Linked DNA regions of Homo sapiens: region 2 is linked to region 1. The links come from fine-mapping of genetic effects on gene expression. Tissue or cell type: whole blood. Region 1 holds a variant in brackets; the other region holds the start of a gene. All regions are shown on one strand. Distances are between the middles of the regions.

What was found. PIP is the estimated chance that this variant, and not a neighbour inherited with it, causes the effect.
Region 2: it holds the start of ARHGAP32, and the variant in region 1 is fine-mapped to the expression of ARHGAP32 in whole blood (INTERVAL, PIP 0.93).

The regions. Positions count from the first base shown.
Region 1 is chr11:129,360,849-129,368,956 of GRCh38, reverse strand. No RefSeq gene overlaps it. Among named protein-coding and RNA genes, the nearest start is that of BARX2, 11 kb to the left of the region's middle. The variant C/T (reference allele first, on the strand shown) is at 3,865.
Region 2 is chr11:129,188,613-129,196,711 of GRCh38, reverse strand. It overlaps ARHGAP32 (Rho GTPase activating protein 32), which reads left to right and starts at 4,387. Exons shown (of 23, transcript NM_001378024.1): 1 at 4,387-4,629. The coding sequence starts at 4,514.

The DNA.
Region 1 (8,108 bases):
GGACACAGGTGCTAATCATCTACTTAGGTCAAAGTGTAGACACATGTGTGTATATGAGTGTGTGTGTCTCTCTCTGTATGCCTGCACATATACGCCCTGTGCATACTTCATAACTTTTCTTTCTTCTTCTTCTTTTAAAAAAAAAAAAAAAGAATGAAGAGAGGGCAAAAGGAAGTGATAAAAAGGGAAAAGAAAGACACTTGAAAATCGTGTTTATTAAACAAATTCAAGAGGAATCCTCAGTCTCATAGGGGGAAAAAAAGAAAAGAGAGCTGAGGGAGCCGTCCAGCCTGAGGTTTCACATTTGTAGTATCTTTCTGTCTTGTGCTCAGCCATGGTTAGCAGGCTTTCATGTGTGCAAAGAAAAGTAGACTGTTTCCCTTTCTAAGAAATATTCCACAACTTGAAATATTTCTTACAATTGTAGGCTTTTAAGAGAAAATTGATCTCTGTGAGCTATTTATAAAGAATGTTTTTATATCAGCAGAAATTATAATAACACAGCAAATATGCTAGAAGCAAAATAGAGAAACAAAAAATGATATGGAAAATTCTGGTATTGAATATTCTTAGGCAAAACACTCAAAAACTTAAGAAAATGCAAAATGTCATCAAGAAAATGATAATCTGAGTCAAGTGAATATTTGCTCAAGTTTTTCCATTTGGGGATTTTTACGTAGATAAATATTTTACCTCACTTTGAGCAGACAGCCACGAGGACAGTTTTTATAGATCTCTAATGCTGTGGCATTTCCTTCATTACTTTCCGAAGTTGCTAGGATGCTTGGATCTAAAGAGGCTATAAATTACTAAAGTAAATGAATGATATGGTGCCAATTTCTCTGCGTTTCAATTACACAAGCAGCCTGCCTTTTAAAATTGAATTTGAAGTCATCACAGAAGAGAATCCCCAATTCTATTGCCAGTCCACATCCTGATACGTTTACTTAAGTCAATTATCGAGTTGCTTAGATTATGTCTACAGAAGCTGCCAAAACATCTGGTCATTTCAATCAGTTCAATAAAAGATTCTGCCAAGTCAGGGGGGAAAATTAGTCAAATTACTCATTTGTATAGGCAGAGCAATGGGTTGTTTTCTCTGGGTAGACTGTACATGGATATAACTCAAAAGGTTTTGGTTTTCTCTTCTGAAACCAGAATACAGTTTATAGTTCCTGAAGGAGGTTGTGATATTTATCAGTGTTTGGGAGGTGCTCTGACAGATCTATAGTCCAAAATGTAATGGATATGAAAAGGACTTAATCACGTCTCTGAGACAATTCTGTACTCATTTGAATCCTATGTTCTCAAGGTTGGGACCAAGTCAGAATTAAGCCAGTGGGTTTTTGCTAAATTTTGAAAAATAAAAGTACTAGTACTAGAAATCACAGAATAGTGCCTTTTCGCCTAAAACCCACCGGCATTCCTGTGGATGTATGTCCTCACTTTAACAAAATCTGACACATGATTTGAATTACCAAATACATATAAATATACGGTGTTTCACGGGAACCTCCGCTGCATAAAATGCTGCTCTATAAAATCAAATTAATGCGGTCCTATTATTTCTTCAGTCTCTTCTATGGCGTCTTCGATGGATATTTGAAATTTCAAATGATTATCTTTACTGACCACATAGTGACAGCCCCAAAGAGAAATAAATGCTCAGAGACGGGGAGGAAGAGATTTAGGAGCCCGGCAAGGCTCCTGTTCCTATTACCCTGTTTTTCCTGTCGCATTTACATACTCACTCAATGTTTCAGATCAGAGGATTTTTAATGAAACATTCTAAATAATGATTTAGTTCAGAAGTCTGTATTAGAATACGAGCTCTCACTTGACTAAACATATTGGAAGAAGAAAACAGTTTCATTATTCATTTGGAGCAACATTAAGTACAAATAACCTACCCATGTCTAATTTTATGCGACTTTGTTCTCTGTACATAGATTTGAAGTTTTTTGAAACCTGAGATAATTAGGAACAATTATTGTCATAACTGAATAATATAAACTTTGTATTATGTCTGAGGTGACTCACCCTCCTACTAAATATTCCAGAGTACATGATCTGTTAGGCTGAGGTCTGTGTGTAACTTGTTAAATGTCTATAGCTTAATTGTTAAGAGTTGCTTGTTAATGAATTAGCAACAAAGTCTTTCTGTTTCCTTTAAGAGAGAAAATAGCTCTTTGTTTCAAGAACAAAGAAATTTTAAAAACTCAGTTTTCTAGGTAGGAGGAAGGTAATTTTTCTAAAAGAGAAAAAGGTTTATTTAGAATCTCAGTAGGAGTAGACTCTTGCTTTATGAAGAAAAAAAAAAAAAAAAAAGCCAGAAATTTTACTATAGCTCAACTGAACTGAAGAGTAAGATCTGGGGTCCAGTAAAGAATAATATTCAAGTAGCCAAAAGAGGATTTTAGTTTTGACACAGACAGATTAGAAGTCGGTAGGATCAAGACTTTTTGGAGAATGAGCAGAAGGACCCTGCACTAAGAATGGGATAAAACCAAGGTGGTCAAATGGGGGTTCACAGGGGTAGATCTTCGTTAACTTCTTGTGGACAGAAATAGAATTTGTTTTTCCTTTGTAAGAACTAATGATGCAGAGTTTATGCTTTTATTTATGCAGTATAATTTTGGAAAAGTAAGTTTGACTTCCATGAATATGATGGCTTGGAGAACAGAAATGGAGCAGGGCATGAAGAGAGGAGAGGGTATGACATTGCAGAAAATATGCAGATTCTGGGGTTCCAAAGAACCTCAAAATTATTAACACAAATGAAAAAAAGTGCCCAGTCTTGAATTCAGCTTTGGAATATACACACCCCACATACTTGTAGGTTAACAAGTAGTTTACTGTCCTGATGACAAACTAAGAAGTCATTTACAAGGTAATATTTTGGAGTGCAAAGACCCACATAAAAGAGACTGAATTAGTCACAAGCTGTTTGTGGGAATGTAAATTGGTATGATATTTCTGGAGGGCAGTTTGGCATTATATCTCAAACACAAAATCGATCCAGCAGTCCCAACCTAGGAATTGAAACCAAAGCTGTGGTTCTCAAATATGATTGTACACATAATTTCCTAGGAGTGCTTGTTTAAAAACTGCCCATTCCTAGATTTCCTCCCTCCAGAAATGTGTAGGTGTGACAGTTGACATTTTAAAACCAGCAGTCCTATTGATTTAGCTGCTGTTTAACAAACAGGTTGCCAAAGAGATAAAAATGATAAAAGTGGGACAGGCTGTAAGAAGAAAAAAATGTTAGTTGTAAGAATTCTTAAAATTTAAGGAAATTAGGAAATCTGTCATTTTACCTCTCTGAGCCTCAGTTTCCTTGTCTTTGAGATAAAAGTACATACCCAATAGTGTTATTGTAACACTAAAGATATATATAAATGGTTTAGACAATGACTGACACGTAAAGATCAATATATGTTAACTATTATTACTGCAATGCTGAGTGAAAAAGTCATTGATATAATAGAATGTGCAATACAATTCCAGCTTCAAAACATTGTTTATATACACATGTATATAGGTGCATATAGAGATGTCTAAAAGCATGTTCAAATACTAACAGTGATAATTTATTTTTAAAATGTATTATTATTATTAGAGATAGGTGTCTTGCTATGTTGACCAGGCTGGTCTTGAACTCCTGGCCTCAAGCAATTCTCCTGTCTTGGCCTCTCAAAATGCTGGAATTACAGGTGTGAGCCACTGCACTCAGCCCAGTGATAATTTATTCTATGTAGTTTTGAATATTGTTTACATAGTTTTACAATTGACATTTATCTTTTTTCCTACAAATTATATTTAAGTTCAAAAATATTATAATATTTTACATTCAAAAATAAAAAG[C/T]GAACTTCAATATCTTACATTTGCATAACATTTCCCATTTACAGAAAATTTTCAAATGCAGTACTTCATGTGAACTTTATACAGCCCTATATATGAAAAAAGACAAGTCTTACTATCCCTATTTTACGAAAGAGGAAACTGAGGAAAAGTGGTTTACTTGAGGTTACCCCACACAGCCACATCTACACTTGCAGAGCCAAGTCTCAAACCCGAGTTTTTTGAGTCCAAGTTTCCCATACCCTCTATGGGACAATGTTTTTTCACTGATCTCAGTTATATTTTTCAAAAGAAATGAAATTCCAGTTTTATGAGTTTCTATTTTTCGCTCATCCACCCCCTCATAAAAAATGCTAAGCATTTGATAAAACCGAGGTAAACTGAATATTAAGAGGGCTGACATAAAAACATATTAAAGTCAGGAAATATCACAGTTAGGTCTGGTAGGAAAACTTAACCATCTCATGTGTCATGAGCTTTGGTTACTAGGTAATCCTCTAAATATAGACAGTCCCAATCACTTGTTAAAAATTAACAGCAATTTCACGAGCAGGGAAAGTGAGTTGATAATTATGTGGAACATGGACTGTCCATTGGATTGCTCTGAGTTCTCGAAAGTTTTTCACCTCCTAGCAATCAAGCCCCGGCGTCTCACGGAGCCTTCCCAGCCAAGCCGCTTTGGCTCTGGACCACGTCTGCAATCAGAAAGGATCCTAAGGTACCCGCCACTTCTCAGGGTTGCAGCGTGGCCGCTACTGCCCTCTACCGGACAGCAGGGACGCATGGCGTGTGTGCTGTGGAATCCGGTCTCCCTCTATCGGCACGAAGCAGGTACATTATCAAAGACAGGCTCTCCAGAGGTGCTGCGTCGGCGCTAGTGACTGTCCCAGAACATTGTCTTGGGAAGGCCACCTGGGGGGCTCCTTGACCTCAGCACTGTCAGAAGTGTCACCTGTTGCTATTCTTCCCTAAAACAGATCAAGGGACTCTCTAGACTGGACAGGGAAGCCTCTTTGCCCGTCCTACACTCTAGGGTTAGTTCTGATCATTCTCACCATCAAGGACTTGAATTCTCCACCGAAAATCGTTGTACATGACTTAGCTCTACTTCTGATTAATAAGGGTATTGAACAAGGAGGATTTGAAAGCAGCACATAATACCGGTAGCAACTCTGTAGCATACAACTCTAAGATCTAGGACTGTGCCCTGATGTCACCATTTAAGAGCAAAGTCAGCTCCAGTATAAACAAGCTTTGTGGACCTCAACCGTGAGTAAAAGCTCCGCTTCTCTGAGTTGGTCTCAGGGATCTAATTAGTTTATGGTGGTAGATCTTGAATATGATCAACACTATGTTCATATATTGCATTTACATTAACTCCAGTATACATTTGCCTGCTCTAGATCATGCTTAAATATTTCTGGCTTTTATGGATTAGGTGCACTTACAGTTCCCTGAATTTATAGATGACACCTGGTCTCTTTTAACTTAGGATGTAAACCTTCTTGAGTAAAGGGAGTGGAGGGTCTGGCTGAAAAAGGAAAATGTAAAAGGTAAAATCTTAATAAGAGGATGAATATAAAAGAAGAGAAATAGAAATAATTCAATTTTTCCTGCCATTGATTTTTCTGTCCTGACTCTATGAATTACAAATACAAAGTCATTTGTAGTGACTTTGCTATTTTCCTATAAAAATATATTTCCTTATTTCCCCCCTGCCTGCAATAGAACACACAGAGCCAGTCAGTCTTGCCAGGTATGGAAAACAAGTTTATACATAACTAGAAACCTTTCTTCCCCCTAAAAAATCAAAACAAAACTCCACTTCATGGGACAGGCTGAAACTACCACAAAACTATGGGGAATGATTAAGAAGTTGGCTGAGGTGCTTTCTAATGACTGTTTAGTCAATCAGATAGCTGAGTTTGGGAACAGGATGTTGTTATATTTCTGGATATTTAAATACCACCTTCTTGAATGGCAACATTTTGTTCTTTGTATTACATTGCATTGTTTTCCTTGTAGCAACGTGTTGTAAATCTGTAGTGGAGATAAGTGTATAGAAATTGAATATAGAGATAATTCATCTAGCATATATTTATTGAGCATCTACTTTGTCCCAGGAACTGTGTTGGTCCAAGAAATGTGGTGGTGAACAGCACACACTCCCTTTCCTCACAGTAACAGACCTGTAGTGGAGATAGATGAGTCAACAGGTGCCTACACCCATAGTTAGGAACTGGGAGATTTAAGAGCACGAAGGAGGGGCACTTAGCCCAGTCCGAAAAGAAATAAGGGAAGGATTTCAGAAAGAATTGTTATATAAGGTGAGATCTGAAGGAAGAATATGAGTTAGGAAGGGGTAGAGAAATTCGAGGCAGACAAGAAAAACATCCAAAGCATAGAGGCAAGTGAAAGTGTCTCATGAAGCACCTGCAGTACTTGAGTGTGGCTGAAGTGCAGGTTTGAAGAGGAAAGTGTCCTGAGAAAATGAGAAAGAAGGGCCAGATCATAAAGCATCTTTTATGCTATGTTACTGATTTATATTTTATTCTGAAAACAATAAGAAGTGCTAAATGATTTATGGTAGGAAGGTGACATAATCAGATGTGCTTCTGAAAGTCCGGGCCATAATGTTATAGAGTGTGGATTCAAGGAGAGCAAAATAGAGAGGAGGGAAACCGGTTAAGAAGTTACTGTAGGCCGGGCATGATGGCTCACACCTGTAATCCCAGCACTTTGGGAGGCCAAGGTGGGTGGATCACCTGAGGTCAGGAGTTCGTGACCAGACTGGCCAACATGGTGAAACCCTGTCTTTACTAAAAATACAAAAATTAGCTGTGCGTGGTGGCAGGTGCCTGTAATCCCAGCTATTTGGGAGGCTGAGGCAGGAGAATCGCTTGAACCCGGGAGGCAGAGGTTGCAGTGAGCTGAGAGCATGCTGTTGCACTCCAGCCTGGGCAACAAGAGCGAAACTCCATCTCAAAAAAAAAAAAAAAAGTTACTGTATTTCTATGTTAATCCAAGGGAGAGGTAATTGACTTCTGAAGCCATAGGATGAAGAAAAAGGAGAGACCGAAATGATTTCAAGGAACTAGAATCCATGAAACCCAATAATTATTTTGAGGTAAGAAAATAAAGAAGTCTAAGTCAAGAATGACCCTATTTAATACCCAGAACATAAAAGCTCCTACAACTTAATAAAAAAAATGACTCAATTAAAAAACTGGGCAAATGACTTGAATAGAAATTTCTCCAAAGAATATATATATAAATGGCCATAAGCACATGAAGAGATGCTTAACATCATTGGTCATTAGGGGAATGCAAATCAAAGCCACGATGAGACATCACTTCACCCCTACTAGGATAGCTATAATTAAAGGAGACAGAAAATAGCAAGTGTTGGCATGGATGTGGAGAAATTGGAACCCTTGTACATTGCTAGCAGAAAAGTAAAATGGTACAGATGCTGTGGGAAACAGCTTGGCACCTCCTTAATAAGCATAGACTTAGCATATTACCCAGCAATTCGACTCCTAGGTATATGCCCCAAATAATTCAAAAACAGAAACAAACATATTTTCAGGCAAATGCTTATTGCAGCATTACTTACAATAGCTAAAAGTAGAAACAATCCAAGTGTTTACCAACAGAAAATTAGATAAATAAGAGGTAGTATATACATACAATGGAATAATATTTAGCCATAAAAGCAATAAAGTTCTGATACATGCTACAACATTAATGAATCTGGTAAACACTATGCTAAGTGAAATAAGACAGACACAGAAGGACAAGTGTTATATGATTAAACTTATACATAATGCCTGGAATAGGTAAATTCATAGACACAGAAAATAGAATTGTGCTTACCAGGAGCCAGAGAGAGGGAAAAGTGGCAAGTTATTGTTTAATGGTTATAGAATTTTTGTTTAAGGTGATCAAAAGTTTTGGAAGTAGATAGTAGTGATGGTTGTACAACATTGTGAATGTAGTTAATAGCATTAAATTATACCCTTTTAAAACTGCATAAATGGCACATTTTATACTGCATATATTTTACCACAATTTTAAGAATCAGTAACATAATAGACCAGAAAAATCTCACATTGAATTTGTACACCTTCAATGGGTGAATAATGGCATTGTATGTAAATTATCAATAAAGTCATTAAATTATCAATGATTAACAAAGTCATTAGAAAACAAACAAATAGCAACAACAAAAAGGAATAGAGCTCACA
Region 2 (8,099 bases), 170 kb after region 1:
TCAGTTTCTTCACCTGTAATATGATGGCTCCTGCCTCATGAGGTGGTTGGGAGAATTATATAATTCGTTATGTTTGGGCCTTAATCCAATGCTTGGCATATAGAGTCAGTGCTCAGCATATGCAGTCATCAGTTGGTATCCATGGGGAAATCGTTTCCAGGACACCCTGTGGATACCAACATCTGTAGATACTCAAGTCACTTATATAAAATGTTGTAGTATTTACGTATTACCTATGCACATCTTCTCATACTTTAAATCATCTCTAGATCACTTATAATAACTATCAATGTAAATGTTATGTAAATAGTTGGCATACAGTATTGTTTAGGGAATAATGACAAGAAGAAGCCTGTACATGTTCAATACAGATAGGACCATCCCTCTTTTTTCCCTGAGTATTTTTGATTCAACCAAGAGGTTGAATTCATGGATGCAGAACCCATGCATACGGAACCTGTGGGCCAACTCTGTTGCTGTGATTATTACTACTTACCACTGCTACTAGGAAAGTCAGCACTTTTAACAATGTTTCTCTTCGAAAAAATTCATTCTGACTTGCAGTGTTTAAATTGTTGCTGTAAGAATGCTTCTCTCTTTGCTGCTGTGGGATTAGCTATTTCCCTTCCCCTCAGGTTCCCTACCTCTTGGAGGTAGAAGATGAGAACCAGCTAGTTCGAAATTACTGCTGGTGACTCCTGTGGTTTCAGTCAAAGACTTCAGCTCCATAAAAGCTTGTTGGGAAAGTGAAGGCTGATCAGGGTTTAAACAAATCAGGAAGAAAAGGAGTTAAAACCACCTTGTGGTCTTCAGCAGTATCTAGTCTCTCTCACACACTGGTAGCCAGAGTGATGGACTCGGCTGTGTTCCATCCCTGCCCCCGCTGTTAACCATCACCTGTTGATTCCGCTGGATTTTCATTTACTACTGGAGAAGGGAACAGAAAACAGAAACACATGTAGGTTTTGAATTTAAAAACTTTTTTTCCTTTTTTTTTGAGACGGAGGTTCGCTCTTGTCTTCCAGGCTGGAGCGCAATGGCGTGATCTCGGCTCACAGCAACCTCCAGCCGAGGCGGGTGGATCACTTGAGGTCAGGAGTTTGTGACCACCCTGGCCAACATGGTGAAACCTCTTCTCTACTAAAAATAAAAAATTAGGCGGGTGTGGTGGCGGGTGCCTGTAATCCCAGCTACTCGGGAAGCTGAGGCAGGAAAAACATTTTTAAAAAACTTGTGATGGCAGAGTCAAAACAGAACAAGCCTCGGAAGATGTGCACATTTAACTGTCCTTCAGTATTCTGTGTAAAAATACCACTCACAGTTCACGTTTTCACTTTTGAAAGGCTCGAAGTGAGGGAAATCAACCATCATAATGAAAGAACAAAAGAATGATTAAAAGAAAAGGTGAATAGGATTCATGAAAACGCTTTGAGGCCGGGCACAGTAGCTCATACCTGTAATCCCAGCACTTTGGGAGGCAGAGGCAGGCAGATCACTTGAGATCAGGAGTTCGAGACCAGCCTGGCCAACATGGTGAAACCCCATCTCTACTAAAAATACAACAACAACAACAAAAATTAGCAGGTGTCGTGGCACACACTTATAATCCCAGCTGCTTGGGAGGCTGAGGCAGGAGGATTGCCTGAACTGGGAGGTGGAGGTTGCAGTGAGTCGAGATCGTGCCACTGCACTCCAGCCTAGGTGACAGAACAAGACCCTGTTTCAACAAACAAACAAAACAAAACAAAACAACCCCCCCCCCCACAAAAAAACAACACTTTGAAGGAGTTAGAGTTGTTTAGAAAAAAAAGAACTAGATTCTTAATGAAATAATATTTAAAAATCCAATTCTTTACTGAAGGTCATGAAAGATTCTATTTAAAATTAGTTAATATTTTGGTAAGGATTATATGTGCATGACATAGTGAAAAACTATCTTTCTTTCTTCTTTTTTTTTTGAGACGGAGTTTCACTCTTGTTGCCCAGGCTGGAGTGCAATGGCGTGATCTCGGCTCACTGCAACAATCTCCACCTCCCGGGTTCAAGCGTGTCTTTCTTTTATTCCTCTTCTCCAGCTGTCTGTTTTCCTCCGTGGAGACAACTACTGGTACTAGTACTGATCCTCTTCTTCCATAGATAGTCTGCATTTGTTTCTCCTAACTCCTCATTGAAAACACAGATGGCAGCATAGCATACTGCACATACTGCCCTATACTTTTACCCCTTTCTTCTTTGCCTTAACAGTATTCCTTAGGCTTTGTTCCGTATTGTGACCTGTAGGGCTGCCTTGTTTTCTCATATACTCACTGTGTAGCATTCCATTCTATGGGTATTCTGTAATTTGCCTAGTTTTCTATTCCTCAGGAAGTTAGGTTGTTTTTGCTATCCTATTTTGCTACTATAATGTCTACCAGAATGAATGTTCCTGTTTGCCTCTTACTTCTACTTGTGAAAGTGAGATAATTTCCTAAAAGAGAAATTGCTGGGCCAAAAAGATGTGCATTTTGAATTTTGGTAGATTTTGCTAAATTGCCCTGAACACAGGTTGTACCAGTTTAAACTCCCACTGACAGGCATGTTTCTTTTCCCATGTCCTCTTTCAGTTTGTTAAAACCTTTTAAAAGCTTTGCCTATGTGATAGATTTTTTAAAAGTCATCTTATTATGTATTGTTTTACATTTCTGTTATCAGTGAAGTTACTTTTAACATCTTTTAAGTTTCTTTTATGTTTATCTCTGAGTATTATATTTTTGCTCTTTGCCTATTTATCTTTTGAGCTCTTGGGTCTTAGAAGTTTTTAAGAACTTTTTATATATTAAATAAATTAACCCTTTGTGATATGTTTCAAATATTTTTTTCTCAACTTGTTTGCATTTTGACTTTGCTTATAATGTTGTTCTGTTGTTTTTGGTTTAAAAAATTTTTTTTGAAAAGTTTTTAAAATTTATATATGTATTATATGTATTATATAATATATATTATATATAATATATAATATATAATATATATTATATATTATATAATATATATTATATATTATATATAATATATATTGTATATGTATTATATAACATATATTATATATATTATATAACATATATTATATATTATATATAACATATATTATATAATATATATATATTATATATAATATATATATATTATATATAATATATATATTATATGCTCTAGGGACCTGCATATATATATATTTTTTTTTTTTTTTTTTTGAGACAGGGTCTTGCTGTGTTGCCCAGGCTGGAGTGCAGTGGCGTGATTATGGCTCACAACAGCCTTGAACTCCCAGGCTCAGGCGATCCTCCCACCTCAGCCTGTTGAGTAGCTGGGACTACAGGGTGCACCACCACACTTGGCTGTTTCCCGCCCCCCCCCCCCCCCCCCCATAAAGATGAGGTCTCGCTAAGTTGCCCAGGTTGGTCTTGAACTCTTGAGCTCAAGTGATGCATCCACCTCAGCCTCTCAAAGTGTTGGGATTACAGGCGTGAGCCACTGTGCTTGGCTCTTTATTTTTCAAATATGAAAATTCAAGAAGACTTCAGTAGATGTCTTCTTAATTTTTGATTAAATCAGATACAGTGGAAAGTCAGGGCTTTGCAGTTTGTTGCTGCTTGGTAAAAGACAAATAGCCATGAATATCCAGCAGGTCAGTAGTTTCTGTCAACATGGCTCTTTTCTAAGTAACAGTTGTGTTGTTGACAGTCATAGATGCTATACCTTTCACTCATTTCCCAGCAAGTCATTTTATTGCCACCATGACTGTTTGCAGTTTAAATGTGTAAAACTTTGCATGCTTTTATTTGATGTGATTGTCAGCATCTTTGAACTTGGGACACTTAAACTTTTTTCTTTCAAGGACTGTGGACAAGCCCAGCTTTTATGTCTCACTCTGGATACTTGAGCAGAGATGCATATGGCAGTCCTTACTGAGAGGAAGGAAAGATGGGTGTAATATTGGAAGGCATGAACCTAGGCAGGTCCCTAGAGCATACTTATCTTCTCTACTTATTGTGAGCCTCCTTAACTGTGAGATCTATAACTGTGCTTCTCATGTGCTTGGCCAGTGGATGGTGTTATTCTTTCTAGTTTTCTATTTACCTTTCTGGAGTCCGAGATCAAAAAAGGATACAAATAAAGCCTGCATTTTGAAAATACCTATTTTTAACTTATTAAGTGGAAACTTTGAGAAGAGTCATTATTACAGAATAATTAGTAAAAAATCACCTTCATTTAGATTCTGCTTTTGGTTATGTAGGTCACGCAGCCTAAGGCAGTGGGAGGGTCTAGGTGTCACCAGTATGGCAGTCAGACGCAGTGACTGTGCTGCCTGTGATTTCCTGTCTGTACCCTGACTGTAATTAAACCAGCACCAGTACCTGTCACTAGGGCACCAGACACACATCTGAGTATACATGAGTAGAGCTGAACAACCTGAATGTTGGTGCTTTTTATTCCATGCCTGGAGGTTTAGTTTTTTTTGTTTTTTAAGTACAAGATGGAGACTGAAAGTGAGAGTAGCACTTTAGGGGATGACAGTGTCTTCTGGTTGGAGTCTGAAGTTATAATCCAGGTGACTGACTGTGAAGAGGAAGAAAGGGAAGAGAAGTTCAGGTGATTATGGAATTCACAGTTCCTTTGTCCTGTCCACTCCCTACCCCCACCCGCACCCCTTTTTCTTCTCTGCATTTCGGTCTTTTTTCCAATAAGACTTTCTGTTTTCTGGGGGAAGGTTTGGAGCTCAAGGGAGCAGGTTTTGAGTTGTATATAGCACTCCTCATTCCACAACTTGCCCTGAACTTGTAAAATGCATTTTAAAGGACTTGTTAGAACGCCAGGAGGAGAAGGTGTTAGACAGGTTTTGTAGTAGCCTTTCAGGAATTTCAAGTAGACACTCATAATGAACTACTACCCCTTCCTGTATCTGATTTGTATCAAATAGATTTGATCTGAATTTGTATCTAATAGATTTTTCTTCCTCTTTTTCTTGGAATGTGGTGTGTGTGTGTGTGTGTGTGTGTGTGTGCGTGCCTGCCTGCCTGCCTGCTTTGTTTGCCTTATGCATGGGTATGAAAAATTCCGATTAAGTACAGATTGGTTATTTTGTGGCTTTGATCTTTACCCTTGTCTCTGATCTTGTATCTCATGCCCCCTTTCCCCCAAATCTCTCTTGGTTTTTGAATCTCTGGTAGTATTAGTAACTTCATAATTGAAGTTTTTAGAGGATGCCTCCTGATGAAGCAGCTCTCAGTTTAGTGTCTGTGGTGAAGAAAGATGTCTTAACCAGTTTGTGAAAACAGAACCAATGTTTCATTCATTCTGTTGTACTGTTGCAAATTTTAGGGGGCTTTATTCTGGCTTTTCTTTTTCTTTCAGAGTTAGCGATGTAATACCTTTGAGTATCACAAAAATCTCTTGATGAAGTTTGAAGTTTGTTGCTGCATATTATCACTGCCACTCACATGTGCAATTAAACATCTTTTATAAGTTTACCTATGAGAACTTGGATAGGTGAATATACTGTTTTCATCAGATACTGTCTTTGTGTTTAATGCTGAAAAAGAGTTTCTCCTTTTCTCGAGTCAAAGGATTTCTTTATCCACAAATTTTATTTTTTAAAGTCTAGGTTAAATGATGGAAGGGATTGAATATTGGGAACTCTTGATAACCCTCACTAAATTTTTTACTCTGGGGTTCAAATAAATGAGAAGTATATTTAAAATTTTAAAAGAATAATTTTCAGAGTATAAAAATGAATTATTAGCATATGATTATTTTTTGTCTGAACTTTTGTCTCATTTTCCCATAATTTTATCTAGCCTTTCAAATTTGAGTAAGTCCCTTCCCTTCCAAGGTATGCTAATTGTTAGTCACATGTTCTGCTTTTTAATATGGTTTGTGTCTTGCTAACAATGAGTAGGACTGAAGTATTTGTTTTGCTTGTAATAAAACTTTTTGACCTGGTATTCAAATTATGGAAGTTATTTGGGTATTTGTCAAAGGAAGAAACAACTTGGAACTTATTTCATTGTTGTTTTTATAACAGATTTGGTACTGTAATCCTAGATTTACTTGTAAGGCAGTGGGCGTCTCTCTGGGATTTTCTTTTGACAGTTAAAAGCAAATTTGTGTAAGGATGAGCTCTTCTTTTCCTTGGGAGTATGTGACAGCATTTTCACTCTGAGAAACTGAGCTAGTGATGTGTTGTTTAAGGAAACTATGATACCATAGGGCATTTCTCTTCTGTTTATATTTCCTATCTGAATAGCACCATGGCTCTCCTAAATCAATTATATCTTTGTGATTTGATCTGATTTTATTTACAAATGTAACAAAGAGGTCTGGGCAAGGCCCAATTTCATGTAGTGTCTCTCACGCATTCAGCAGTGAGGCATGAGGAAATGTGGCAGCAGAGTGGTTTCACAACCTCGTGGTGGTGTTCCTGCCGAGATGCCCTACAGGAAAATGGAGGCATGGGTGTGGAAGGGGAAGGGTCGGATAGGAGTTGCAGCTGTAACCTTGGGAGGACCAAATAGTAGACTCAGTGTGGTATGACAGTTGTTTTTGTAAAATCAATGTAATAATTTTAAAAATGTCTTACTGTGTTTTTATAAAAATCTCTGCAAATACATGTGACATCAAGCTGTCGTATTGGTTACATTTCCATTCACATACACACACATAGCTGAGATGAGGGCAAAAGATTGTGCACTTTTCTTTTTCCCTGAATAGCTTGTAAACTACATTTTAAATGCACTCTTAAAAGCCTGCTCTTGTGTAACTTAAGGCACCATGGCTAAGAGAGTAAAGTCATACCACACCTAGAATGTAGGCTTCTGGTGCTTCCAGGTGCCATCTGCTTTAGGAGGAAGTAGTCTCAGAGACAAGTTAATGTTTGTCCAGTAGCTTTTGAAATAGCATTTATTTTTGGACTCAGTTGGAGGAAAGGATCCTTTTTATTAACACTCTTTCACTATGGGAAGTTGCCGGTCTCCTTCATGGTGGTAGTTTAAATTTGTCTGCCATTGACTCACAGATCTTTCATTTTCTGATTTCTTATTTGTAGTCGGTATTATTACCTACCTTGTCACTGTGGTAAAATAGTTATTAGACTAGAATATTTAGTCCTTAGAATAAAATAGTTCCTAGAGATGATTAGAAAAATCCATCCCTGGATAAGAAGGAGGAATATAAGGCAGAAAAGGAAAAACATAAATGTTTTAATTCTATCAAGAAAGAAAAACTTTACTTAGAAATTGTTATATGTAATGTACTAGGCCATATATATGCTTTATACAGTGTATCAGTTAACTGCTTATCACTCCTATAAAGCAGGTATCATTTTTCCTATTTCCTCGGTGAGGAATTTATGGCTCAGAGAGTCACACAGCCCACATTTGTCATGGTGGAGCAAAATTTTGCAAGTGGTAGCACAAAAATTTGAACCCAGATGTAACTGACTTTGAAAGTGAAGACTTTAATGAAAGATTTTTGGGGCTATCTTCTGCTAAATGCTATTTTCTGCTAAGTGATAACTTATAAGAGGCTACAGCTGATATCTCAAGTTTTGAAATTCCTTTTTTTTGAGGAGGTTATGAGCATCAATGACATATAGATTATGTGACCATCATAAAAATGAAGTAATGAACACAATAATGTGACTTTTAAAAAATGTGACCTCTAGGACACCTAGGAATCATGAAAGGTTCTAGTTCTTTGGCATTTGAAGGTAGAAATGTTTATCATATGATTTTGTTTAGACTTCCCTAATACCACGTTATGGGCTGATAGACAGCCTGGCAAATATGACATATAATTTGAAGCAGCTACAGAGATGATATAGTGCTTAATTGAACCATATTTTTGATCACGATCTGTAGATGCCCAGATCGCTGATCTTCACGTATATCTCCATTATTAAGGCAATTCATTTTAAGTGACGAGAAAGTTCTGACTTTAGTTAAACTGGATGATTTGGTGAACATATTTTAATTGGGGGGGACAATGCCTTTATTGATTTATAGCATTATAGAACTAATGATACTTCATGCACTTGACTCGTTGGTTGGTTGCATTATTCATCC